Linked DNA regions of Homo sapiens: all the other regions are reported to be linked to region 1. Evidence: microRNA targets listed by miRTarBase, many of them from high-throughput screens and not tested one by one. Region 1 holds a microRNA gene; each other region holds the end of a gene's coding sequence. Distances are between the middles of the regions.
Evidence for each region. Region 1 holds the annotated microRNA hsa-miR-23c (AUCACAUUGCCAGUGAUUACCC, at 1,637-1,658, opposite strand). A microRNA usually pairs through its seed, bases 2 to 8, with sites in the 3' UTR of a target mRNA and lowers its output. Matches are read on the target gene's strand: a 7mer-m8 pairs with bases 2 to 8, a 7mer-A1 pairs with bases 2 to 7 and ends in A, and an 8mer does both.

Region 1 (3,083 bases):
ATACAAACCACTGCATGACACAGCAAACATGGTTGGACCTCATTCATATACCCCTGGCTCACCATGCAAATCACCTGCAGACAGTTCTCACACATGGCCAAGGCTTTTCTGTGTCTGTGGGCAGGCTTGGGCCATGAAGTGTGCATGTGGCCAGATCAGAGAGTTAATTCCCCAGGGAGTGACCTTCTACTACCGTGAAGGGCAGGATGTGGTAGATAAGTAGTTCAGTTTCCTCATCCCTCAGCTGGACAATTCTAAAGCATGATCCACAGTCTGTCAGAGGTTCCCAATGGGACTGTGTTCCAGTCACCCACAGTAACACATGCATCAATGCACTTACATTGGCTTTTCTCCTATTCCTCTACCAGCTTCCTGGGATTCGCTTGCAAAAAAAACTGCTGGCACTCAAATTCTTAGCCCAGGGTTTGCCTTTGGGGAAACCCTAACTCACAGATGGCAAACATTACCAACTTCACTGCAACTGCCCCAACTTATATTTAATAACCAGCCCAGACAGTTTAAGAAGAAACTTCAAGTAAACATTATGAGTCATTGAAATTTAACTAATTGTACCTACTATCAAGGTCCTTAAAAAACAAGTAAAGTCCATCTGAGGACTCATACAGTACCTGCTTTTCAATCATGGCTTTCTCTTGTTTTTCTTGTTCTTGCTTTTCTTTCAACAACAGCTCCTCCTCAGCCTTCCGCTTGGCCTCCTCGCCTGCCTTTCTTTTCTCTTCCCCTTCCTGTTTTTTCTTTTCCTCTTCCTGCCGCTTCCTTTCTTCTTCCTGCTTTCGGGCTTCCTCTTCTAGGCGAAGCCTTTCCTCCTCTGCCTTTCTTTTCAATTCCTCTCTCTCCAGCCTTTTGAGAATACAACTGTTGTTAGAAGATGACATGCTCGAAAAGCAAACTGCCAGAGAACTGTGTGCTGACAGCCGAGAATAATGCTCCACATGGTAACACACACACATACCTTTCAACGAGCATTCATTTAATAACATGATTCATCCTTCCTGGAAATCCACTCTGGTCCATATATTTACCAAAAAGTATTAACCAGGCTTGACTTTAAATTCTGTAATACAGCAATGAATGATGTGTTGATGTGTAACGCATACTGTATTGAAAACAGATGCTCCTCAGTCAATGAACAAATGACCACGGTGACAGAAAGCCAAGCCATCATTCTTATTGAATGACAATTCTTTTAAAACCTAAGCAGAATATTTAAAACCAATGAAAGCTAGGAAAAATGGGAAGTGTCTCAATGGCCACAAATGTGCCAGTCAGCAATTTAAGAGCAGTGACTACGAACTCAAAAAGTCATACCAATTTGGTTCTAATTGGTATGTGACTTATGAAGCAGCAAATGGAAGAAAATGCTCAACAGAAACTTGACATTTAATAAATTAAAACCTCTATTTCCATTTATTTTGGCAATCTTTAGAAATCTATTTTAGCTTTCTTTGCTATATGAAAATTAAGTGGCATTTAGACATTTTCATCCACAGTCAGATGAATGGTTCATGGTGTAATGGTAAAGAGCTCGAAGCAGTAAGGGAAAATCCTGTAAAGTCCAAGAGCTTGTTTTAACCTTTCTAATGTTCCTCCTCCTCACATGTACGTCACTTTCCTTGGGTAATCACTGGCAATGTGATGTATGGGCATGACTCAAATTGTACTCTGATTATGCCACTCACTGTGTGACACCTGGAAAGTCACTCAATGTTCTTGATGCCCATTTAAAAAATGGGAAAAGCTATACTATTGTTCTATGGCTTTACTGTGAGAATGAAAATGCCTGGCCCTAGAAGGTTCTCAAACGTTAGTTTGTTTTACAATTTAAAATGAATCCTCTCTCCAAGCCCCAATGTCCTTTAAAGTGCACCTATAAATCTGTATGTCCTTTAGAAATTACCTTCATTTGGAAGCATGTGCCAATGACTTACTGGGATGCTGTTGTTATAAAAAGGTCAAGACTTAAAAAGAGCATCCATCCATCCTAATGGTCAGCTTCAGAACTTGTGCAGGCTAACAGCCTATGTATGACCAAAGGAAATATTTTGTTTATTCATTCAAAGAAATATTTTAAAAGAAAGATAAACAAATACTTAAATATATTAGCCTGAGACTGTAACAATACGTGATAACACTAAATTAGGTCACAATGCCTATAAACCATTGTGAAACAACTCAAATTATTAACAGATATTCTGGAGAGGAGCATTATAGAACCTATCAGAAAGAAGCTCCCATTTTCTTAGATTCCTCAATGAAATACTATGTCCAACACAGGATTATCCAAAATGGATGTGTTAATAACAAGATGTATCTAAAGGTTAACTGAAGTACCATTTCATTTCTTACCCTTTATTAACGAGCCAATTATGATTGTCCCAGAGAAGTTAACACACAAAGGATACATTGTGTATTAATTAATGTATAAGCTACTTCATAAAGGACCTGCCGTCTTCATCTCCAGGACCTGAAAATCCATTCTCTTTTTTTTTTTTTTTTTTTTGATGGCGTTTCACTGTTGTTGCCCAGGTTGGAGTGCAATGGTGCAACCTTGGCTCACCACAACCTCTGCCTCCCAGGTGCAAGTGATTCTCCTGCCTCAGCCTCCCAACTAGCTGGGATTACAGGTATGCGCCACCATGTCTGGCTAATTTTGTATTTTTAGTAGAGACGGGGTTTCACCATGTTGGTCAGGCTGGTCTCAAACTCCTGACCTCAGGTGATCTGCCTGCCTCGGCCTCCCAAAGTGCTAGGATTATAGGCATGAGCCGCTGCACTTGGCCTCTGTTTCTTGTTTTTTACCATCAGGACTTCAGAAGTGCCCAGATGCACACATGTAAGAACATCCTTATGGCCCCTGAACCTCCATAATCCTCATTATCACCCAAAATATAAATCCCCACAAGCCCATGAGACCCCGCTTGTCCTTTCCATAGCACCTCCAGGGAAATCTTGTCCTTTTTTTTTTTTTTTTTTTTGAGATGGAGTCTCACTCTGTTGCCCAGGCTGGAGTACAGTGGTGTGATCTTGGCTCACTACAACCTCTGCCTCCTGGGTTCAAGTGA
Region 2 (3,083 bases), not on the chromosome of region 1:
AGCTCGCAGACATCATTCCAATCTATCCCTCCATCATCTCACGGCATTCTCTCTCTGTTCACATTTCCTTTTTTTTTTTTTTTAACAAAAAAACCTAGTTATTGGGGCCCACTGTAATCCAGTATGATCTAATTCTATCTTGACTGCATCTAAAAAGACCCTATTTCCAAATAAGGTCACATGTACAGTACTGGGGGTTTGAACGTGAACGTATCTTTCTTGGGAGATGCGATTCAAGCCACAAGAGCATTTACTTCTACTGTAAGAAGAAAACAAATCGAGTTTAAATCCTATGTATCTTTTGTTTCCAAACCATGCTGCAGAAACTAAAACTGAACTGCACTATATATATTTCTAGGTGTCTGAAGTTTTGAAAGAGCTTCCCAAAACTTTAAGGTAGATCCCTAGTTTCATCATAAATGTAACTAAAAGAATTGGCCTAAATGATTTCAAAGATCTCCACCAGCTCCTGGTTAAAAACTGCAAAGCTATGATGTTGTGGGCTTGTAAAAAAAACAAAATACACACACACACACACACACACACACACACACACACACACACAAACAAAACTGCAAAGCACAGTTGGTGTGCACCTGTAATCCCAGCTACTTGGGAAGCTGAGGTGAAAGGGTCACTTGGGCTCAGGAATGAGGCCCCGACTAAAATTCGCTGCAAAAGCCCAAAATCTAGTTAGCATAAATTCCTCAGACATGTAATTAAATGACACTAATGCTTTAAGCTTACTGTCAAGGTTAAGTCTATTCAGTGAAGACAATGAAATGAATTTTCATCATGTTTTGAGTCTATAAACAAGTACATACTCAGACATGTCTAATACAATTCCAGTGTTTTATAAACTGGCAGAATTGATGTGTTTTATAACAATTCAGTATCCAAAAGCCTGAGGAGACTTGGACCATTTTCCTAAGGGATGAAGCGGGAAACGTTTATTAACCAGAGCCAGATTGAGACCTTAATAATAAAAAGATATGGGTCCAACCCATAGGTCACTCCAAATGGCATCAACACTAAACCATAAATAAGCGTTAACAAAGTGCAAAGTTCTAAATTTTCGCATAGCTACTTCAAGTCCTCTCTTTTTTAAACATTATTCTTATGTGGCTCACCCGTCACTAATGCTCAGTGTGCCTCTTGGGTGGCTCAGCAGTGGGAAGTCCACTTTCAGCCTAACTACTCCTAACAATGAAGCTGTTCTCCAGAGAGCAAGAATAGCCAGCCACATGCCCCCTTCTCTGCTTTTTCATCCCCCTCCATCTGATTCAATGGCGGTGTCCCTGGCTGCAGGCTTCAGTATGCTTCAAGCCAAGCGCAGCTCAGCTGCCAGTCTGAGAACAACCAGGACCAGCAAGCCACAGAGGGACACGCTGGTGCAGAATGCCTGGCCAAGAGGCATGAGTTTTACTTACAGCCTCCCATTCTAATTTAATGCAGCTCAACAGGCTGAGAATGGATAATCTCACTGCAGTATTCCATAATAGGCTTGGATTAAAACCAGGGACAATGGGCAGCAATAGGCCATAGGTTAAGCAGCAGCAACTAGTCACCACTGGACTGTCTTCTTCTCCCCTTCCCCATATCCCACATTCTCCTAAACATGATGTACGTGTAGCAACAGTCTTTTAAAGTCAGATGGTCAGACTAATTATTTTTACAATTTAAGTGTAAGTGATGTACATGAATGGACTCTGTGAATCGGAAAACTTACGTAACAGCAGAGAATACGTATGTTATATGGAACAACCTGAGTTGAAGGTACAATTTTTTTTCCAGCTCTTTTATTCCTTTAACTGCTTAACAAAAGAAAGAGTCTCCAAAGTTTAAAAAACCTTTGAAAAATATACAGCTTGATATTATTTACATAAAATATGAATCCAGGTTCCAATATCAAACAAACATTGCTATGTCAGAAACACAGTGGAAGGCAGGAACGTAACTCACTGCCTTTTAGATGCAAAGACTAATAGACACGTTCTCCTATCTCGACTATCTTTGTTACCTGTTATCCTCAAACATAAATTATTAGGCACCTGAGAGGTTGGAAGACTACCGAAAATGAACTTCATACCTTCTGTATGATTATTATCTTAAAAAGTTACCGCATTTTTAATCTCTTTTATAACTTTACTTCATCTACAACTAACTTCACTTTCATTATCCCAAATGATCAGGTATTAATTACATGAACTGTTAATGTATACACAGACCTAAAAATCAAACAAAAATGTATTGCCCAGTTGTGTAGGATATATATTTGAACCCCATGACATTTCCTAGTGCTTTGTGAGCAATCCAAATTTCACTTAAAAGAGAGGTGTCAATTCTGCCCATGCTCTGGACTATGTTTTTAAAAAACATACAAAAAAGACTGACAATAATTGATCTCTTATAAATTAATCAAGAAACCTAAGATTAAAAATTCTAAATTACAATTTTATTTGTATTTAAAAATACATTGGAAATTCTGCATATTCCCATGATCAACCTTATTTTCAATGCACATTACTTAAATTTTGATGACACAGTTGATTCTGACAAGTCCTTTTTCAAGCTGAACACCAAAATAGGGAAACTCCTGTACATTTCCATGGGCCCTGTTCCCATTGATGTATACTGCTTCCTTACTAACAGTGAGGGATGACTTTCATCAGTCTTTTATCACCTGAACAGTCTTCCGGCCATAATGATAGTAACTATAAGCTGATGCAGCTGTGGTGAAAGCTGTAAAACACCTTTTATGGAAGAAAAGAAATAAAATGTAGTTGTCAAGTCTAAAAAATAGTAGCAACGGGAATCATAATGAATACATGCAATGAATTTAAAATGTAAAAATGAATTTAAAAAGTAAAAAGGGCTCTGTGGTGTAATTTTTCTTAACTACAAGAGTCTAAATACACTGCTTTTCTTTAAGAGTTCATTTTAATTAGTAACGTCAAACAAAATTATTCTAGATAATGAGCCCTACAAATTACTACTACTAGCAACTGTCATTTTTTACTCGGGCATCCTCTAGGTGTCTTACATTCTCATTTTATTCTTACAACGAACTCATCCTCCAGAAG
Region 3 (3,083 bases), not on the chromosome of region 1:
GGATAAATTTCTCTTGAAAATCTTATCCCCTAATAGGTAAGAGGGCCCAGTTAATCCCCTTGGTATACATCTTCTAATTGTTTTAGCTGGTATGACATTTATGCATGTTCCTCAAAGAAGAAATAAAGTAGGGAAGTTACTATTTTGTCTGTAGAAAAATGATGGGGTATCCTGAAGAATATAATACTTCCTGTATTTAAAGCATGTTTGCCTCTTAGGTTCAAAGAACCCTCACCTGATCACTAACTGGGGACCTGCAGCTTTCACTGAGGCAGAACTTGAAGAGAGAGAGAAGAACTGGAAAGAGAAAAAGACCACGGAGTGACTGAGCTTGCTGGCAGTCACGTCAGTTATGTAGATACTGCATGGCAGGAGAGCTTTACGCTAAAGACAAAAGAAACAGCTTTGGGGGCCGGGCGTGGTGGCTCACGCCTGTAATCCCAGCACTTTGGGAGGCCGAGGCGGGTGGATCACCTGAGGTCAGGAGTTCAAGAGCAGCCTGGCCAACCTGGTGAAACCCTGTCTCTACTAAAAATACAAAAAAAATTAGCTGAGCGTGGTGGCGGGCGCCTGTAATCCCAGCTACTTGGGAGGCTGAGGCAGGAGAATCACTTGAACGTGGGAGGCGGAGGTTGCAGCGAGCTGAGATCATGCCGTTGTACTCCAGCTTGGGCAACAGAGTGAGACTCCATCTCAAAACAAAACAAAACAAAACAAAACAAAAAAACCCGGCTTTGCTGCTTTTAACTCTTCTTCCTTCTGTGCCTCTCTAAGTGGGTCAGTATCCTAAGGAAGCCTTCTTATTTATCTTCCTGCAAACAAGGGTTACCTGAAAAGAAAAAAAAAGTCAACATTGTCAAGCTGTTTGTTTACTCTTTCTTTGAAAACATCACCTTCTGAAATTTGTCTTTTAGCTCTCTCAGATTCTTCCCCAAATGAGGCAGGGTGCAGACAGCACAGTCAGCTCTGCAGAGTTTGGAGGGGCTCACTGCCACTGGGTACTCAGAACCTCTGTGGACTGGATGTCAGCTCTTTCCTTTGGCAGCGTGTTTCCTTTTCCGAGTATGTGCTGTTAAACTAGATTGGCCGGTTCGCTTTCCATTTCCTGACACTTGACATGGAATGCCTTTGACCATTGGTGCTCTGACAGAGAAGTCATGGAGTCATTGCCATTTCCTGGTTGCCCTTTTGGAATGTGATCCTGTTAGTAGAGGTTTTCTAGCTTCTACTAAGATATTTCTTTCCCTAACCATCATACACTTGGCATGTTTCATTCCCATCTCCTTTCCCCTCACCTTAAAGGAGACTACCCCTTTGCCCCATATTGTCAACCTAATTTTCTCTCGTACTCTCTCTAGTGAATGATGTGCTACCAAGTATATGCCAGGCTGTGAGAGGATTATACTGAGTAGTAGAAAGAAGCTAATTTGAAATAAAAATTATTTGTATAATTAAGAAAGCAGATTAGATGCACATGGTCAACAGGAAGTTGACTGTATGTCTGCTAGTTAGATTCAAAACATCATAAAGATGATAGCATGTCAATATATTAGCCTAGCCATTATGTTAGCCTTTGTTAGGTGGGCAGCTTTTCTGCTTTTTCCCTTCCTCTGTGGTGACAACGGAGGAAATATCCAACAGAAATACGTCTAACAGGGAAATTGGGATCATAGTTTATATGCATCTGATTTGAAAGGAGTATTGAGGAAGGTTTTCATATATGATCTATCTTTGGATTAAAAAGAACATTTATGAAATCAAGCCTTCTAACACTAGTTATAATTGAGAAGCAACAGTAACTCCGTGGACAGCAATCAAGCTTAAAATTGTAAATAAATATGGGGATAATTCAGTTGTTGCAAAAAAAGGGCAGAATTCAGTAGAATAAAGTCCTTTTCTCTTACAGGTATTAAATGAGGACAGAGAACCTCAGGTGTTCTTATGCTAGTGCTTGCTGAGTGCATACTAAGAAAGCAATTCCAAATAGATGTATACATCTAGAGAGAGTGGTATTAGAGATTCAGTGTATGTATTTATTTACATGAGAGGAAACTGGAATATAATCCCATAAATTATCACCTTTTATGACTGGAAAATATTTGCCAATGAAGAAATGGTCTGTAGGTATTTGTCTTAAGATTTTTGGCTGTTTAATAAAAATGTAACTTTAACGGTTTCTTATAGTTGCCTTTATAAAGTGTATTGTCTAAAATATTTTTGTATCATGTGCCTTTGAAATTTGACAGCTGATTTGGGTGTTGGATTTCTGCCCAGCCATTTATCAGTATTATCATTTTATTCAGTAGCTGGCAGGTGTATTAGACCAACGAGACTTAGGTAAGGAATGGAACCTTTCCTGTGGTTTGACTGCACATTACACCAGAAGACTCCAGTATCCCTCATTCCAGAATGAGGAAAAAGTATTCTACAAAGAACCTAATCACCTCTGTGAAATCTATGGGATGGAAACAGTGTGGCCTTAGGAGTCAAATAGTCTCTGCATGGTGGGGAGGATCATGATGGAATATGTGAATTTCTACTTCTAGAAGTTGTGAAATAGGTCCTGCACTTTTGCAGAATGTCCTTCTTTAAACCTGGCTTATTCCACAGCTGTAGCTGATAACATGACCTGGGGCTTAGCTGCTCTAGCCCTGGGTTCTTGGAGACCTCACACTGCCTGGCCCCTGGCCATCCACCTAAGGACTGCCTGCTTTCTGGTCACATGTGGACCTTGATACGACTAAGCGGTTACATATGTGGTTGTGCAAAAGCTTTCTGTTTAATGCATAGTGTTACCGATTTACATCTTGGTTTTCAGTGGCACTATGTCTAGGAGGCAATATCCTTTTAAACAGTGCTTTGGCTAAGATAGATACTTGTGAATCAAAGATAGCACAGAAATGAACTAAGTATATCCCATTTGGAATTATATTTTGATACTATTTAAAATGGTTTCACCTGTTAAAGGGCCAACAGAACTCTTGGTTTTACTTTTGTAATTACTGTACAGAAAATTTCAAGAGTGTTTGAGTGCTTGTCATCAGGTGTTTTCCTTAATAAGTAGGGATATGATCATTTACAGG
Region 4 (3,083 bases), not on the chromosome of region 1:
TGTCCTGCATGAGGGCTGCTCCATTCCATTTGTGTTGCCAATTGTTTCAATAGCGTCTCATGCACCCCATTGGTGAGGAAGGAATTAGCACCCTATGTCTACTGGTACCGTTAAACACATGACATCTATTACTAAACAGATAAACTAAACATCAGTTATTAATTACATACAGGAGGATGGTGTAAGCTCCCACAGGCCCAAACAGGGATTAACTTGGGAGCAGAGAGTGGTACAGCATTAAAAAAGTGAGGATGTTCCTTTGTTCCTACAGGAGTATGTGATTGGTTTGTCTGTTGGCTGGTAGGGAACTGAATCATGTGACACTGACTGGTAAGACTGTAATACTGTAAAATACACAAACTATAATACCGTAACGGTGTAATACTATATACAATACCAAAGGCATTGATGAAAAACCCAACGCTATCACATGTGACTGTGAGACTGAATGCTTCCTCCCTCAGACTGGTTACAACATATTGTCCTATCACAGTTCTCTCTCCTTCATTCAAAGTGAACTATGCAAATAACAGACAGAAATAATAAAGAATAAAGGGCAACAAATGCAAAGAACTCACGAGATGATACTCTATGATAAACTTTATGTACTTAGGAATTAATACCAACTCATTATTAGCAAAAAATAAACATCTTTACACCAAGAGTAGTTTTTCCTTTAATAAAAAAAGGTGGAATGTGTATAATGGACAAGGGATAACCAAAATTTGCCAAGTGAGGCTAGTAAGAAAATCGCAACAATTAGCAATCATTACTCACTGGTCCATTAATCACAGAACAATACATACAAATTAAACTTACTCCGCTGGGCACAGTGGCTCATGCCTGTAATCCCAGCACTTTGGGAGGCTGAGGGGGGGCAAATCATGAGGTCAGGAGTTCAAGACCAGCCTAGCCAACATGGTGAAACCCTGTCTCTACTAAAAATACAAAAAATTAGCTGGACATAGTGGTGGGCGCCTGTAATCCCAGCTACTCGGGAGGCTGAGGCAGGAGAATTGCTTAAACCCAGGAGGCAGAGGTTGCAGTGAGCCAAGACCGCACCACTGCACTCCAGCCTGGGCAACAGAGTGAGACTCCATCTCAAAAAAATAATAATAAAATAAAAAAATTAAACTTACCTACATATTAGAAAAACATCAAAATTCAACCATGAATCCAGCACATTATCAAATGAACAGACAAAAATTCTACCAACAAACTGAAGAAAGTATCATTACTATGAAATTCAAGTACTGCTTAAAAAGCATTTACAGAACTCTCACCTCAAGGTTTTCCTGCAAAATAAAGTGAAATGCATACTCAAGACTCTTTAAGAATGAGCCACTGATGAAAACAATATACTTGCAACTTGTGTAACATTTCATACATGTACATTTTTTTCAAGCACCGCACGATAATTAATTTGCATCAGGCTTTCCAAATTAGAAAAACTTCACTTATAGAACTTCTTTCCAGTGGGAGTTTTCACGACTTTTCAAATAAATGTTAAAACTGAAAATATTCTTGCAGTTTCTAAATATTAGTTGTAATCCTGTGTACATTTTTGTATTTACAAGGTCCAGCTGCAGTGTGCATTTTCACATGTCCTTGAGCAGATATGAGAGAAATGAAAACATTCCCACATTCTGGACATTCATAGGGTTTTTCTCAGGAATGAGTTGATGTCTTCAAACGGAACTAAAACAACTGAAGGCCTTAACACAAATTTAAATTTAAAAGGCTCTTCTCCACTCTGAGTCCTCCCAAATCTTCAAAATAGGAAAATCTGAAGGCTTGACCACATTTCCTACATTCTTAAGGTTTTCTGAAGTGTGAGCTCTTTCATGTTTATGAGGGAATGGGAAAGAGTAAATGCTTTACCACATTTCTTACACGCATAAGGCCTTTTTTTTGAGACGGAGTCTCACTCTGTTGCCAGGCTGGAGTGCAGTGGCACAATTTCAGCTCACTGCAACCTCTGCCTCCTGGGTTCAAGTGATTCTCCTGCCTCAGCCTCCTGAGTAGCTGGGACTACAGACACCCGCCAACACACCCAGCTAATTTTTGTATTTTTAGTAGAGACAGGGTTTCACCATGTTGGCCAGGATGGTCTCGATCTCTTGACCTTGTGATCCACCCACCTCGGCCTCCCAAAGTGCTGGGATTACAGGCGTGAGCCACCATGCCCAGCCGCATAGGGCTTTTTTGAGATGGAGTCTCACTCTGTCACCAGGCTGGAGTGCAGTGGTGCCATCTCAGCTAACTGCAACCTCCAACTCCCCGGTTCAAACGATTCTCCTGCCTCAGCCTCCTGAGTAGCTGGGATTACAAGCATATGCCACCACACCCAGCTAATTTTTGTGTTTTTAGTAGAGACGAGGTTTCACCATGTTGGCCAGGATGGTCTCAATCTCCCGACCTCGTGATCTGCATGCACAGGGCTTCCCCGCCTGCTGCGCACGGCTTTTCATGTCCTTGAAAAACAACTAAGACAACTGCAATGTGCCACCATGCCCAGCTAATTATTTTTTTATTTTATTTTATCTTATTTTTTGAGACAGAGTCTCACTCTGTCACCCAGGCTGAAGTGCAGTGGTGCGATCTCGGCTCACTGCAAGTTCCGCCTCCCGGGTTCATGCCATTCTCCTGCCTCAGCCTCCCGAGTAACTGGGACCACAGGCGTCTGCCACCACGCCCAGCTAATTTTTTGTATTTTTAGTAGAGACGGGGTTTCACCGTGTTGGCCAGGATGGTCTCGATCTCCTGACCTCGTGATCCACCCGCCTCGGCCTCCCAAAGTGCTGGGATTACAGGCGTAAGCCACCGTGCCCGGCATTATTTTATTTTTTGTAAAGACAGGGTTTCACCATGTTGCCCAGGTTGTTTCACATTGTTTTAATCCAGGCTGGTTATGAACTCCTGGGCTCAAGCAATCCACACGCCTTGGCCTCCCAAAGTGCTGGGATTATAGGCTGAGTCACTACACCCAGCCTCTATATCATGACTTCTTTCATGGCGAGTAAGGTGACTGGAACGAGTGTAGGCTTTACCGCATTTCTTACATTCATAGGGTTTTTCTCCAG
Region 5 (3,083 bases), not on the chromosome of region 1:
CCCTTCGGGATACTCATCTAATTGTGTTTTTTAACCTTCTGTTTGTCTTGCAGTCCCTGCTTCTGTTTGTTATTCCCACACAGACATCAAGGTGCCTGACTTCTCTGAATACCGCCGCCTTGAAGTTTTAGATAGTACGAAGTCTTCAAGAGAAAGCAGCGAGGCTAGGAAAGGTTTCTCCTATTTGGTAACTGGAGTAACTACTGTGGGTGTCGCATATGCTGCCAAGAATGCCGTCACCCAGTTCGTTTCCAGCATGAGTGCTTCTGCTGATGTGTTGGCCCTGGCGAAAATCGAAATCAAGTTATCCGATATTCCAGAAGGCAAGAACATGGCTTTCAAATGGAGAGGCAAACCCCTGTTTGTGCGTCATAGAACCCAGAAGGAAATTGAGCAGGAAGCTGCAGTTGAATTATCACAGTTGAGGGACCCACAGCATGATCTAGATCGAGTAAAGAAACCTGAATGGGTTATCCTGATAGGTGTTTGCACTCATCTTGGCTGTGTACCCATTGCAAATGCAGGAGATTTTGGTGGTTATTACTGCCCTTGCCATGGGTCACACTATGATGCATCTGGCAGGATCAGATTGGGTCCTGCTCCTCTCAACCTTGAAGTCCCCACGTATGAGTTCACCAGTGACGATATGGTGATTGTTGGTTAAGAGACTTGGACTCAAGTCATAGGCTTCTTTCAGTCTTTATGTCACCTCAGGAGACTTATTTGAGAGGAAGCCTTCTGTACTTGAAGTTGATTTGAAATATGTAAGAATTGATGATGTATTTGCAAACATTAATGTGAAATAAATTGAATTTAATGTTGAATACTTTCAGGCATTCACTTAATAAAGACACTGTTAAGCACTGTTATGCTCAGTCATACACGCGAAAGGTACAATGTCTTTTAGCTAATTCTAATTAAAAATTACAGACTGGTGTACAAGATACTTGTGAAATCTGTAACTGACTTTATTTTCTTGCCCAAATATTTGCTTCCTGCTTTGCGTCAGGGACGCAGATTCTGCACGGTCATTGTTGGGATGAAGTAAAATTAACGGGTCATCTAAGTGTCTATGGCATTGACAGAAACAGTAGTATCTAGGTATTCCTTATTTACCGGACTTGGTAAGAGTCCTGGCTATGCATTTCCTCCCTACTGTGTAAGCCGTGTGATAATCTCAACACTAATCTGTGGGAAAGAGTCCTGAATGAGGCATTAGTAGCTCTGAGGGTTTATCTTCACGTCTGGTCTGCTGGTTTTTCTCCTTAAGTGACAGGCCAGGAAATTTTATTAGTCCCTTATGAGTGTAAATTAGTACTTAATCCTTTAGTCTTAATAGGCAGTGATGGGATATTACCTGAGAGAAACTTTCCAAAATGAGAGTGCTCTGCCATTTCGTTCATTTTGTGTGTGGTTCATCATGTCCCCAAAGTTCCTGCATCCACTCTATCAGGAGGCAGAAAGGGAGCATCTGAGACCTAATACTGCCTGCATGCAGAAGTGGTCCTGCTGGGTTTGTTTCTGTAGTGATGACACTTTGAATGTTTTTTCCTGTTGGGTTTACAGTCACTCAGCACTTTTCACTGTAAGATGGTGTGGAACCAGACGCAGAGCACATCGGAATTCACATCCTATTCTGCCTCCAATTACACAGGTGAAACAAGACTAAGGTCCATTTTCCCCTGGGAGTTGGGAGTGGGCTTTGTCCTTTGAGAATCACAGTCACTTTTTGATGTGTTTGTCTTTGCTGTTTAGAGGTGGACCAGTCGTGCTTTACTGAGTCTACCTGATAATCTCATGTACACTTTTTTAAAATGGCAAAAATGGTTAGGTTGGGTCTGCCCAAAGGGAACTGACCATCCAGGATTCCAGCCTTTGATGTTAATAGCTAGGTGTTGACAGAAAAAAGAAAATGTCAAACTTTCTATGCTTATGAGTAGATACTAGTCTTTGCTTCATTTTTACCATTCTAGAAATGAAATTAGCATGTGTGATAATTGGTGGGACACAGAAGTATTTTATATTCTGTGTCTCTAGATAGTGGAGGCACTCTTCGGATTGGGGGTTGGAGGAAGGGTTGGTGGCAGAGTTGGAATGTGAAACATTGAGTTGTGAGGGGAACACAGGTCCACACACTAAAAAACCTGTGCTGCCAAAAATGTCAACAGCACCCCCTCCCTATAGAGAAATACTGATAACCTATATCACCTCCCACCCTGAAGTGATACCTTGAAATTCTACATGGCAGTGGAGGACAGAAGTAGGAAGTTTGCAGGTCTCTAGGTACTCACTTAGTGCCGGAATTGCTATATTTGGTGGCTGCTTACTTCATCTTTCATATTTAGAGTTTGATGGTGGGATGCTGTTAAATTGTAGTAGACCATTTAGTTTTTAAAGAAGGCTTTGTTCCACAAGTGACAGGACAAGTCAAGTCACTTCATGCTGTTTTGCTGAATGGATACGGCAGACCTGTGTTAACATTTTTACCATTCTGTGAAAACAAAATCCTAGATAGTAGGAGAAAATTACTTACAGAATAAACCTGACCAGCTAGCACCCTGACATCAGATCATTAACCTACTGCATTTTATTGGGGATAATTCTTGGGACAATCTTGAGAGCCAAGTGTTTTCATTATGCTTTAAAAAGTGTTATAAAAATGGCCTTTTTGAAAATGTTGCATTATTTGTTAAAGATAACATCAAATTTTCTTTGGTCTTTCTGAGCATACCTTTGTAAAAACTTTGACTCAATCTGAGTGTATAGAGGGCATTTGTCCTGACTGGATCAAAATGTGCTTTAGTACCCTCATTTTTCTAAACTGTAGGAACATACTATTTAAATATCAGAAGTAATTCTTCATTCTCACAGTACTAAATTTCATTTTCTGTATTTTCATGTCGTTTGAATTTCATTGCATTTTGTATATTAACCCAAAATAATGTTTATATTTTATGGACTGTTATCCTTAGCCCACTGTTCTAACACACTTTATCACCACCTATTTGCTGGTGACTCCCCACAACCACTTCCCTGAGTTTCATATTCATGTGCTTACTGGGCATATATGTTTGGATGTCCTG
Region 6 (3,083 bases), not on the chromosome of region 1:
TTCCCCACGATAGCAAAAAAGGTGATGTCTGGAGCATGGGTGTGGTCCTGTATGTCATGCTCTGTGCCAGCCTACCTTTTGACGACACAGACATCCCCAAGATGCTGTGGCAGCAGCAGAAGGGGGTGTCCTTCCCCACTCATCTGAGCATCTCGGCCGATTGCCAGGACCTGCTCAAGAGGCTCCTGGAACCCGATATGATCCTCCGGCCTTCAATTGAAGAAGTTAGTTGGCATCCATGGCTAGCAAGCACTTGATAAAAGCAATGGCAAGTGCTCTCCAATAAAGTAGGGGGAGAAAGCAAACCCAAAAACCCGCTTCTAAAATGGTGATATATATTTTACGCTTTAAGTTTACTTATCCTAAAACTTACCTACATCTACCCCAGCCTTACTACTACTCTTTCCTTTTAGAGATCTTCATGGAATCAAAGGGCCTCATTCAGACTTCCTTTTTTTTTTTTAAGAGTCTTGCTCTGTCGCCCAGGCTGGAATGCAGTGGCACGATTCCAGTTCACTGCAACTCTGCTTCCCAGGTTCAAGCGATTCTCCTGCCTCAGCCTCCCCAGTAGCTGGGATTACAGGCACCTCCCACCACGCCTGGCTATTTCTGTATTTTTAGTAGAGATGGGGTTTCACCATGTTGGCCAGGCTGGTCTGGAACTCCTGACCTTAGTGATCCACCCACCTTGGCCTCCCAAAATGTTGGGATTACAGGCATGAGCCACTGCGCCTGGCATGACAAGTGATTTTCATACTAAAGTTAATTAAAATAGACCCAAGAATCATATACAAACAGGGGGAAGAGAGGATAAAAATGACCAAGAGCAACTGAAGCCATTCTTGTTGCAACTTCCTTTCCAAAGGAAAGCAGAGGCACTGGGAGTGCAGAGATGGCCTCCCGACTCCTTGTCCCAGTGAGAGGCCTGTTGCGAGCCCTGACCCTTTCTCATCCCAAAGGCAAAGCTGAATCTGGGATGAGGACAAGGTACGTCCTCTGGACCTAGGCTATCCCCCTACCCTGTCTCTGGCTCCAAGTGGGAAGCCAGTCCTGCCCTGGCCCAGTGCAGCTGCCAAGGGGACAAAAACAGACCCCCAGACACCTTTCAGCTTCGGGTGAATCACTTTAATGCTGTTAACGGCAAGTCTGTAAAAGGTTCAGGACAAAGTTCTTTTTTCTTTCTTTTTTAATTATAAAACTAACAGCTGTTAGAATCTTTTTTTCTTTTTTTCCTTTTTTCTTTTCCCAGCTACAAAATACTCTGGGGAGATGCATTATAATTTAAAATATATAATATTGCACAAACAACCAAAAGGTTAATTAAACTAAAGAAATAATTACAAAGAGAAAAACCCCATCCCGTCAAAAAAAAGATTCAGCATTCTCTCCATCCCACCCCCTCACTGAAGGTTTGAAGTGGAAGTGACCTCACTCTCTCGGTGTCCCTGACCCACGATCCCTTTCACTCATTGGTGAGCACACCAGATTAGGTACAAGAATCACCAGAGCAGCATCGTGAAGCACCAGGCTCTCCAGAGATTCCTGCAGCCCCTCATTCCCCCAGAGGTGCAGCTTTACCAGAGTGGAGGGTGAGAGCACAAAGGCTGGGTCTGTCTTCAGGAAGAAGAGCTTTTGCAGAAGCCTGATGAGAGTTTCAAGTTCACCCCCAGGATAGCCCTTCCAGAAGCAGAAGGGCTGAGGCGGAGAAGCTAGGCTTACCAGAGTTGTAAGTACTCGGCTTTGATCACCGCTCTGTACCGCTGGTAGCTGTTTTGTGTCCTAAACTACAGGGGAGTTGAGGTGGGTAGCTGGTTGGACAAGGTATCCTGCCAGGCAACACACAGAAGGGCCTGAAGTAGCCCCCTCCCTTCTTGGGGAGGGGAAGAAACGCAAGAGCGAACTCCTGCAGGTGGCACAGCTGGGCTAAGGACTTGGGTGCATCCGACATGAAGAAGCCCTGGGAAGGCATGGGGACAGACCAGCGTGGGCTGGAGGAAAGGAAGGAGGTGGGTCAGGGTTTGGTCTCTGGATTCTGAACCCCAAAGGAGCCTTTCCAGGAATGGAAAATGCCTGGGAGGGGGAGAGTCCCAAGAGAGGCAAATTTCCCAGAGATAAGTGCCTCTTACCCACTGGGATAGGAACCAAAATGTGTTCACTGTCCCTGTTTAGCCAAGGGTAGGTGGCATGGCCCTCCCTGCCTGCTTATGTATGGACAGAGTATGTTGTCTCAGCTTCCTCCGAGAGAGACTGGTGGTTTAGCTTCTGTCTACACAGGCAGAAGGGCTAGAACTATCCCTTGGGACTTCCCAGCAGGAGTCCTCAGGAACAGTGGGTGTTCAGCAGAAAAACACAGGCTCTTCTGGTGAGGAGGATAGGTTTCCTCTCCCTTGGGTCATCCTATTGTTGGCACAAGTCAGAGTTTCTGGCCGGGATTTAGAGAGCCCCTTCCCAGGTGTGAGCAGAGGCCCAAGAGGGCCAGCAGGGAGCCACCAGAATCTGTGCCCAGAGCTCTGGTTGGCAGAGGAGATTTGGGGGAACATTCTCAGTCTTCCAGGGCTGGGCTGAGACGAGCGAGGGAGGCGAGAGATGCCATGGGTGGGGGAGCTGCTCCCTCTGGCTCCCTCACTCCCAGTCCTCCCACTCTACATCTTCCAGCTGCAAATGGGAGGGGGTAATGGAAATCACAAACACATAGTTACTCCTGAGTCAGGCCCAGACCTAACCTCCACTTGCTGAGCAGAGCCACCTCCCATCCCCTACCCCAGGCCATACTCTGAGGTCCCACTGAGAGTGAACCCCTAGTCTTAAGGAATGTGTCTGAGGGGCAGAGCTGCCCTCTGCCTGAGGGGTGGGCCTGATGCTCTGATTACCTCAGACCTAAAGGAAACACTTCCCCCAACCAACACCAGACACCACAAGGTGATGGCTGCCTACAGGAACCAAGTCAGCCTCAGTCCTTTAAGGAGAACTTGCCTCCTGCTGAGCAGATAATGCCATGGCTCTGAGAAGCAGAGAACTCAGGAGGCCTGAGCAGATACTTGGCCCTGGACACAAAAGACCAGTGTAATCAAGGGCAAGTTACT
Region 7 (3,083 bases), 36 Mb from region 1:
TGGAGTTTGATAAGTTTGCTTGCAGTACATTTTCTTTAAAAGAATGGGCAGCTACATGCATACTTCAAAAATATTTTCCTATAAAAAGAAGTTATATAGGTTGTGTTTGCTATCTTAATTTTAGTTGTATTCTTTGATGTTAACATATTTTGTATAATTGTATTTTATAGCTGTATTGAATCGTGTAGTATCAAATATTAGATGTGATTTAATAGTGTTAAATTTAAACCCATTTTTAGTCATTTTTCCAAAACATACTGCCAGATGCAGATGTTCAGTGTAATTTCTTTGCTTGTTCATTTACAGAAAAAGGTGCTCAGTTGTAGAAAGTATTGTACCTTTTAACACCTGATGCATACATCACATGTAACAGGAAAAGCAACAATAAAGTAGCAATCATTAAGAAAAAATACGGCAGAACAAGCTCTATAAGCACAGTCTTATTTTCTTTTGTTATCCAGAATTCTTATGATTCTTAAGCCTCCTAGAAATTGGAAGCTGAATGAAGCAACTCAAGTTTCCTTTATTTTGCACTCGATTACAGCAATTTATAATTTTTTTAAAAAGTTCCTCTGAAGGTATATCTGGATCATGACATTACTGAAGAAGCACCATATCCAGCCACTGCTTTTTTTCATGCAACCAGAGAGCAGAAATAAGGATCAGAAAATACTGAATAGAGTTCAAAGCTCAGAGGTACCAGGTTGCAGCAGAAAACTCCAGGTCTAGTTCTAAAAATGAAAGCTTGCCTTGTTTGAGAAGTTTACAGACTAGGCATATTAGAAGTGTAGTTTGTGATAAAAATAGTCTCATTAATTTCACATCCAGCTCTTTTACTAGTAAGTGTTAATCTGGGAGAAAAATGAGAAGCAACTGGTGACTACTTATATGCAGAATATTTTATTAATTCCAAGGTATTCTGTTAACTTGGTCTTTGCCTTATGATACAGAAGTAGCATTTACAATTTTTTTCAAAAAATACTGTTTGCATATGTTGTTTTGTGATTTAACCTAAATATACAATTTTGTATGAGGTATAATACATCATTATAAAAATGTGAACTTTGAAAATAGTTACAATTATATTGAATTAATTGCTTTTGTAGCTTACAGGCGTTTTTGTACCCCCATTATGAAGGTTTTGCAACTAAATTTATACCTAAAAATCTATTTTCTCCTGGATATATGTTAATATCATTGAAGCAAAAAGCTATGCTTAAATCTGATAAACAAAAGTTTATTTGCATAGAAAAGATGTTAAAGATAATTTTGAAATTAGAAAAACAAATGCTGTAGTGTTTGTTGTTGCTGCTGGCTTGTTTCTTTTTTTGTTTTTTAGCAAAACTCCACTGATGTCTCTTGGCTCCTAAAAACCCACAAGATGAAGTCCAAACACCTAATAGTTTTCTCTTAGTCACTCACGGTCCTCATGTAGTTAAGTCACACTGAACTTCATGCCATTCCCCCAAACACTCCATCCACTTTGTTCACATTGTTGTCTCTGTAATGCCTCTACTCCAGTTTGCCATTTATTCTTCAAAACTAGCTCAAAATGTATTTTTTCCAATGCCCTTTCATGTCTTTCCCAGGAAGAATGTCTCCCCATTTCCATGTCAATTTCTCACATCTGTTTCATCATATTTACATTATAAATATGTCTCCCACTAGTATCCCTCAGCTTTTTATCCTCAGCATCTAAGATGGACCTTGACACATTAGCATATCCTCAATAAAATCTTGAGAACTAAAAATAATAGAAAATAAAGCTTTATCATCAAAAGGCTTGGGGTTAATACAGGAATATTTCACAGGACGTTAAACATACAAACTAAAAGTAGCTGTTTAGAATTATTTGTCAATATTGGAATTGGATGACAAAGAAACAAGGCTTAGAAGTCCAGGGCCAGAAATAGAAAAGTGAGGTTCTGAAGGATAAAATGGGTTACTTAAAAAGGAGATGTAGCTGATGAATGGTAGAAGGGGAAACTTGATTCTTCATCACAAGTCAAATTCTCTTCACATGGCACTCGAGGTTCTCCATGGCTCGGCTCCATCCTGCCTTTTATGCTTTATATTCCACTGTTCACTTTCATGTGTGAAAATACTCTCTATAAACAAAATTCCTTTCTTTCACAAAACACACCCTTCTTTCCTTAGTTTCTATGCCATTGTTTCTAGGATTTCTTTTCCTTTGCTCAAAATTTGGAACAACAGCCACTCTCCTCGTGCGACTTTCCATGACTCTCCACCTGGATTTAAGTTCTGTCTCCCCTGTACCCACCTCTAACTTTACTTAACACCATTATTGTAACAGTAGCTAAAGACAGACTTGGCACCAACCAGGCTGGGTAAGTTTAGAGATTAATGAATGTCAGGGGATAAGTAGGCACAGTAAGGAAGGCAGTGTTCCAAAAGGGAGCAATGGCATTTCAAAGATCAAAGAGAGAGGTCAACAACTCTGGCTGACTCATGCACTCTTGGATTCTCTCCCTTTGAGCAAAGGCTAAGACACGAGTCTCCTCCCAAAAGCGGCGGTGCCCCTCCTTAGTGAGCTTCCAAAGGCAAGAGCGAGGTCTTGCATTATCTTCATCCTTAAGGCTGTCTGGCACCTTCTCAAAGCTGTCCAGGAAGCAGAGGTTGTAATGAATGGTGCTCTTCCAGCCATCCGGAGCTGTCCAGAAAAAGGGGAAATGCTGTCGGGTGAAATTGTAGATCTCCTGCACACTGAGGCCACAGTGGGGGTTGTTTCTTAATGCTAGGGCAATAAGGTGGCTACAATTGAGAGGGGGCCTTTGCCAGGACTTCTCTTGGTTGTTGATTTGCCATAGTTTCTGGCTCTGGTAACATTTCATTTCAGGGGACTGGAGGGAGTTGTCGTCTGGTTCCTCAGCCTCCTCTTCTGTGAGCTCAAAGTCACTGGGGGAATGGATACCCTGCTTCTGTAAAGGAGACTGCTCACTGGAGGAAGATGGCAGAGACTCTACCACTTTGTCCTCTGAGCAGTTAGACCCTTCGTCTTTTTGTGGGGGCTGAGGGAAAGGAGAAATGTTTGTCAGATCCTCTTTTCCACTGGGCTTTGGGGC

Region 2: the mRNA of CRLS1 is a reported target of hsa-miR-23c. Seed matches in the 3' UTR shown: 8mer at 58-65.
Region 3: miRTarBase lists SWAP70 as a target of hsa-miR-23c. Seed matches in the 3' UTR shown: 7mer-m8 at 1,193-1,199 and 7mer-A1 at 2,527-2,533.
Region 4: miRTarBase lists ZNF669 as a target of hsa-miR-23c. Seed matches in the 3' UTR shown: 8mer at 2,885-2,892.
Region 5: the mRNA of UQCRFS1 is a reported target of hsa-miR-23c. Seed matches in the 3' UTR shown: 8mer at 795-802 and 8mer at 2,094-2,101.
Region 6: miRTarBase lists BSDC1 as a target of hsa-miR-23c. The part of its 3' UTR that is shown has no 7-base or 8-base seed match.
Region 7: miRTarBase lists FOXR2 as a target of hsa-miR-23c. Seed matches in the 3' UTR shown: 7mer-A1 at 2,016-2,022 and 8mer at 1,487-1,494.

The regions. Positions count from the first base shown.
Region 1 is chrX:20,015,465-20,018,547 of GRCh38, forward strand. It overlaps MIR23C (microRNA 23c), which reads right to left and starts at 1,723; the gene lies at 1,624-1,723. MAP7D2 (MAP7 domain containing 2) reads right to left here. Exons shown (of 17, transcript NM_001168465.2): 11 at 630-861.
Region 2 is chr20:6,036,744-6,039,826 of GRCh38, reverse strand. It overlaps CRLS1 (cardiolipin synthase 1), which reads right to left. Exons shown (of 7, transcript NM_019095.6): 7 at 1-2,753. The coding sequence ends at 2,669. Among named protein-coding and RNA genes, the nearest start is that of LRRN4, 16 kb to the left of the region's middle.
Region 3 is chr11:9,749,646-9,752,728 of GRCh38, forward strand. SWAP70 (switching B cell complex subunit SWAP70) reads left to right here. Exons shown (of 12, transcript NM_015055.4): 12 at 219-3,083. The coding sequence ends at 325. Among named protein-coding and RNA genes, the nearest start is that of SBF2-AS1, 7.1 kb to the right of the region's middle.
Region 4 is chr1:247,097,449-247,100,531 of GRCh38, forward strand. It overlaps ZNF669 (zinc finger protein 669), which reads right to left. Exons shown (of 4, transcript NM_001142572.2): 4 at 2,514-3,083. The coding sequence ends at 2,926. Among named protein-coding and RNA genes, the nearest start is that of ZNF669, 5.4 kb to the right of the region's middle.
Region 5 is chr19:29,205,129-29,208,211 of GRCh38, reverse strand. It overlaps UQCRFS1 (ubiquinol-cytochrome c reductase, Rieske iron-sulfur polypeptide 1), which reads left to right. Exons shown (of 2, transcript NM_006003.3): 2 at 54-2,892. The coding sequence ends at 664. Among named protein-coding and RNA genes, the nearest start is that of UQCRFS1, 6.5 kb to the left of the region's middle.
Region 6 is chr1:32,364,000-32,367,082 of GRCh38, forward strand. It overlaps BSDC1 (BSD domain containing 1), which reads right to left. Exons shown (of 11, transcript NM_018045.8): 11 at 634-2,655. The coding sequence ends at 2,623. It overlaps TSSK3 (testis specific serine kinase 3), which reads left to right. Exons shown (of 2, transcript NM_052841.4): 2 at 1-313. The coding sequence ends at 257. Among named protein-coding and RNA genes, the nearest start is that of TSSK3, 3.0 kb to the left of the region's middle.
Region 7 is chrX:55,623,994-55,627,076 of GRCh38, reverse strand. FOXR2 (forkhead box R2) reads right to left here. Exons shown (of 1, transcript NM_198451.4): 1 at 885-3,083. The coding sequence ends at 2,430. Among named protein-coding and RNA genes, the nearest start is that of FOXR2, 2.1 kb to the right of the region's middle.